Regions from separate parts of the Homo sapiens genome. Here region 1 is linked to region 2. The links come from fine-mapping of genetic effects on gene expression. A gene starts in region 2. The other region holds a variant in brackets. All regions are shown on one strand. Distances are between the middles of the regions.

Evidence for each region. PIP is the estimated chance that this variant, and not a neighbour inherited with it, causes the effect.
Region 1: its variant is fine-mapped to the expression of ITPKB in whole blood (TOPMed, PIP 0.99).

What each region holds. Positions count from the first base shown.
Region 1 is chr1:226,632,145-226,635,046 of GRCh38, forward strand. ITPKB (inositol-trisphosphate 3-kinase B) reads right to left here. Exons shown (of 8, transcript NM_002221.4): 8 at 1-2,742. The coding sequence ends at 2,527. Among named protein-coding and RNA genes, the nearest start is that of ITPKB-IT1, 41 kb to the right of the region's middle. RefSeq lists an enhancer at 764-913. The variant A/G (reference allele first, on the strand shown) is at 1,461.
Region 2 is chr1:226,737,781-226,740,682 of GRCh38, forward strand. ITPKB (inositol-trisphosphate 3-kinase B) reads right to left here and starts at 1,502. Exons shown (of 8, transcript NM_002221.4): 1 at 1,261-1,502. RefSeq lists enhancers at 136-635, 1,259-1,508 and a silencer at 799-1,038.

The DNA.
Region 1 (2,902 bases), 110 kb before region 2:
CTGGGAAAAGCAAGCAGTTGAAGAAACCTTCCGAGAATGCTAAGCAGTGCTGAATGCCAGGAACTCGTGGGGCCCCCCGCAGGACAGGGCAAGAGGACCCTGCGCCCATTCACCTGGGCACAGGTACACAGAGTTTGTCCTGCCTGCTGGCACATGCACTGCCAGGACCCAAGGAGTCCCTGTGGTGACGAGGGCTGGGCAGGCACGGTCTTCCAGGCTGCCAGGGCAGGGGTTCTGGGAGATTCCATTTCACAATCCATCTATCCCACTGAGACAAAGGGAAGGGCCAGATGGCAGGGAAGCGAGTGGCAAAATGGCTTGAGAGACAGAGTAGGTGTAGAAGAGAACTAGCACGGTAAATACAAAAAAAGAGAAAAAAAAAACAGAAAACAAAAACCCTAAGTAACAGAATAACCCTAAAATGATGCTACTTCATACTATGTTCACATATTTAATGTAACCCACAGCCAAGTATTGCCAATAAGAGGCCCCATGGGCCTCCTTTAATAAGCACATCATTTGCATATTAGCACATTGTTTGCAAACAGCTGGTGTCTGCCTAAAGTGCTTGGAACATTTTGTTCTCTTAAACAGGTCCCCTGTAATTTTTGTTCATATCATGATTTGCTTTAGCAAACTTCTTTCACAGATGGAGTAAGGATAACTTTTGGCCAGTCCATATTCATAGAATCTTTACGTCTGAATTAATGATGCCCCTGCCCTGCAAATGGCTGAAGCACAGACCACCAGGGTCCCTTCTAGCCCAAAAGTCACTATAGCTCCAGAGGCCCAGAGTTGACTTTGGCTCCCCAACGCCCCCGTCCTGCCTGCCTTCCAGATCACATGCTGCCACGAGGTCTCTCGTGCTCCACCGGGCGCGTGTGTGACCTTTAGCAAGTCGGCCCACACAGGAGCTCACCACTGTTTTAAACAAGAGCCAGGAAGTGTAAGTTGATTTCCTTTTTTAAAATCTGTACTTATACATCCTCATGTGTCCCACCCTCCACCCCCAGCAAGTGTCACTCACACTTCCAGCACAAAAGGGGAAATGTACATGTCCCGTGGGCAGGTTGACAGTTCCCCAGAGACCCCGGGGTGGTGGGGTGGGCAGTGGTTCCTCCAGACACACACACCTTGGTCCATAGTCTCCCTCTGTGTCCCTAGCTCCTGGACTCTCCCAGCTCCTGTACCTCTGACAGCAAAGGAGTGGGTGGCAAGCCCCAAGGAGCATGGGGCACAGAGCTGGGGGTTTTGTTCTTAAGAAGTCAGGCAAATTTTACATTCCCTTCCATATCAGACTCACTGGCTTTCAGTTAAAATTGGGCTTAAATAGGTTCTCCACGAATCTCCAAATGCAGAGACTTCAGGAAGAGGTGCCTGGAGCACGCCCTGGCATCCACCACATACCCTACAAGATACCCACACTACATTGGAGAAGCAGGAATCTAAGCCCTCCAGGC[A/G]GTAAGGCTTGTTTCAGAGGCAATAACAAATGATGCCAGGAGGCCACCGCGGCACCTCTGGAAGCCAGAAGCCTGCCTTCTTCCTGCCTGGCGCAGACCTGAGCTCCTCCCCTATTTCTATATCTGCAAGGGACTCTGGGCCCCATGACAGGAGCCCATGTATGCAGGCAGGGTTGACCAACTAGCACCAGGTAGGTGAGGGTCAAGAAAAATGTGCTCCTCCCTGGGGCCAGGGCCCAGAGACTCTATAGATCCCATCTTCCCCTGGTAGCACCCTTGGAGCTCAGCATGGCAGAGTGTGCCTTCTGAACTCATGGGTTGCAATTCCAAGTGGCACAGCTTCTGCTCGCCTCCTCTGGGAAGGCCTAGATCAGAGAACACAGCCAAGCTGGCTTCAGCCTTCTCTTGGCTCCTGGGTCTGGCCTGGAGCCGGCAGGTTTCCATACCAGATGGGTGGGGGGCCTTGCCTGAGCAGCCCTGGAGAGGCCACCAGGGCATCCCTGAGGCTGCTAATCGGAAGACACTTTGCTCACAGTCAACATGTGGTTCCCCGATGGTTTTGTGCCCCAACTACCAGAAAGCCCTGCTCCCAGCCAGGGACCAGGAACCCGGCCGGCCCCCTGGGCTCTCCGGTGGGGAGGCCCCGGCAGAAATAAGGCTGTGCTTGGCAGCACTCTAACAGCACTGGCCGCCAGGGGGCAGCAGGCCTCCGCAGGTGGTAGGTCCAGGCTGGTGCTTCCTAGGGGGCTCCCAGAGGCAGGGCTCATCTGGTAGGGTCCCCTCAGCAGCCAGGGACCCCCTCCAGCTCTACACCTGACCCACCTCTAAGACTGGGCATTTCTCTTCTAGTAGGTGACCCTCTCTACAAAAAGCAGTGCAAACACCACCTCCAAGCCCTGAAGTTAGGAAAATGACTAGAAACTCTCATCTCCTCTTCTACAAAGTGTCTTGTAGTGCAGTTCAGGAGGGTCAGTCAGGTGTAAGTGAAGGAAAAGTTAGGAACGAGAAAGGAAGCACAGGAGGAGGAAAGGAGGCCCAGGCGGGGGCCAGGGAGGGCGTGGGCAGCTCAGGCGAGTGGGGCATCCTGGGACATCTCGGTCAGGATGTCGACGAGGTTATTGAGCCCCGAGAGGTAGCCATCCTCCCGGTTCCCCTCCTGCCAGGGGACGTCATGCTGCAGGGTCTGGCCCTCAGGCAGGGGCGTGGTTTTCCCAAAGTCGATCATCCACACTTTGGCCTGTTCCTTCTTGTCGTGGATGAAGAGGAGGGAGCTGCCAATGACCTGAGGAGAACATGGGGGTGAAGGGTGAGCTGAAGCCCGGGCCTCGCCCTCCCCACTGCGGCCCGGGGCCTGGGTGACCAGGTGGGGAGGCTCGCTCAGGCCGGACAGTTGGGTGCCTGCAATTCCAATCCCCATTTTCAGACAGGCAGCAGAGCCGGCC
Region 2 (2,902 bases):
CCGGACATCTCACCTATGGGGACGGCGAGGCTCGGCGAGGGCATGCCCCGGCTGCCTCGGTCGCCAGCGCGGTTTCGGGTGTGCTTCCCCGCCCCCCACCTCGCCCCAGGCTGCGATGCGCTTTATGAGGTCCCTTCAAATCCCAATCCTAATACTCGTCTCGCGGACCGGCGAGAAGCGAGGTCCAAGTCCTTGGCTCCTAAGTATGCTGTGTGCGGGGCGCGGCTGACTCAGCTCTCCCGGGCTGAGGACACCCCAGCCACCGTCTCCGGGTCTCCCCAGCCTGAGCAAACATTGGCTATCCAGGGCAACCCGGCAGCCCTCGCCCTGGGCTTCAGGGTCTCCCTGCTCCACCCTCTCGGGGCATCAGAGACCGACCGGCTCGGAGGGAACCTAAGCGGGACCTGCCTTGCCCGAGCCGCTGCCAGCGCCCGGATCTGGGAGGGCGCCCGCGTGCCCGCCGTTTACCTTCCTGACCCTAGCCTTGGGGCTGTGTCTCTCGGCCTACGAAGGCCTGGGCGGGCAGCGGGGCCGCAGCCGAAGCATTTTTCAGGGCTAGCCTTGTCGCCTATCCCTAGACAAGTGTTTTGTGAGTGTGGGCGCACCGAGGTTCTACACGTTCTCTTTACCGGAACCAGTACTTGCTGCCCCCCTGCCGTCGTCCCCTATGGGGGGGTGTCTGTGAGTGTGTGTGTATACACGCGTGTGTGTATACGCCGCACGCGCGCGGAGCGAGTCCGCTCTCAGCGCGCCCTGTTGCCGAGGACGCGACTGCCCCTGCGGGCTCCCGGACCCGCGCCCACTCGGAGGAACTTAGGGGCGTGCATGGCTGCAGCCGGGCAGCAGCCCTAGGTGCACAGAGCCTCTAGCTCTGCAAACCTCCCAGGAGCCGGCGCTCTAACACCCCAGGGCAGCGCCGCGGAGCGCAGGGCTTCTCCGCATCCCGGGCAGCCTCGCCCGGCGCCAGCAGAGCCGCCCCGAGACCCCAGCCTGGGGACTCCTGGAGCGCGCTGAGGGAGGCGGCGCGGAGTGAGCGGCCCGGAAGGCGGGTAGGAGAAATGCGGAGACCTCGTCTCTCCCTATTTTCTCCCCACCGCCACTCCATGTCACCCTCCAAAATCAAACCCCCTTCCCTGCCTCCCCAGCCCACCCCTTTGCCCTGTTTCGGAACCAGGAACGCCGAGATTCGCTCCAGAGCAGAAAGTGAGGGAAAAGAGGGTTGTTCAGAGGCGAGAGCCATTAAAAGGCCGCCAAACTTACCTGCAGTTTCTCAGATTCTCAGGTCCTGTGTAGACTACATGCCCAGAGGCGCAAACCTCGTAGGGACGAGATGGCTTTAAAAGTAAAAATGCTCAGAAATTATTTTCTCACAAGCTATGGAAGACAAAAAAGAGGAGTGCGAAAGAGGGGGGAAAGCTCTTCGGTTCAGGGGCCCGGCGATCCCGGCAGTGGCGACGCCAAGCCGGCCCTGCACGCCCTTTTCGACCGTGGAGATACTGCCCCTGTCAGTGTCTGCTCCGGGCTACTTCAGTGTTTGTTCAATGCACGATTAAAAAAAAAAAAAAGAAAGAAAGAAAAGTTGTTGGGGGGGGGGGTAGTGGAGGAGGGAGGAGGGAGAAAGGCGGAGGCTTGGGGGAGGAAAGCAGGAAGGAAGTTGTGAGCCTGTCTGGGGTTGAACTCAGCGGAACAAGTTTTTCTTTTCTTCTTTTTTTTTTTTTTCTATTGCTTGGCAAGACGAGGGAGGGAAACACTTAAAAAAAAGTTTCCATTGTTAGCTAACAACAACAAAAAAGGCTTTTAACTTCTGCGGTTTAAAGATATACAATTCATTTTCCACCCCTCAATCGAGGCTTGCTGATGTGTCTAGCTTTATGAAACTATTTTTGAAAAATGTTTTTAATAAAGTTTTGAGTGTATGTCTTAAACAAAGCAAATCATGGGGACCTTTTTAGCATTTAAAAAAGGCTACAATCCTGTATAAACAGTTTGTGTTCTTGTACACAGTTCTGCAAATTCAAAGAAGGTACATTGAGGTCACCTTCCTGCAGAGTTGCAGGTTTTAAGTGCATCACAGTAGTATTTTGGAAGACTGGTTGGTCTATGAGCTGGGGATGGTTTTGCAGTGCAATTGGTAGATATATAAATACACCTTTACATGTCACATTTATTTATAAATGCACACGGCACATGTGACATTCGCATATTTTTGCACTTAATTCTCAGAATTATTTTAAGAAAAAGCATAGTCCTGAAACTAAGAAGGCTTGGGTAACGTCTGAAACCCCTCTTGCTCCTGTAGACCCTTGTAGACTGTCTCCTGTAGACTGGATCATTTTCAAGAAACTTTCTCCCCTACTATCAGCAAAAAAGGGAGAAAGAACATCAGCCAACATTACTGGGCAGGGGATCCTACCCCTTCTAAGCCCTGGCACTGCCAGTGTGTTTTACATAATTCTCTAAATCTTAAACTACAGCATTTAGTGAAAGGAGGGAAAACACAGCTGCACGGCTCAGGAGACTGAAACATCCAAAGCCTGAATTGGTCCTTATATCATGATTAGCTGAAATTCAGATGGAAATTTTGACTTTACTTGTAGCACACAGATCTCTTGCTTGTTTATGTAACAATACTGTTAAGTGAGCAAAGCAACCTGCTGCTCCATCAGGAAGAGGCTCATGCTAAATCTGAAATCAAGAGATCTTCTAGCCAAGAATACCTGAGAATCACACACTGTTGAAAACTTTATAATTTTTAAAAATTAGAAATGGAAGAATTGAACCTAATTACCCTCCTACCCTCAATGGGGCTTTTTTAAAAAAAAGCCCAATCCCAGAACTTTGGGAGGCCAAGGCAGGCAGATCACAAGGTCAGGAGTTCGAGACCAGCCTAACCAACATGGTG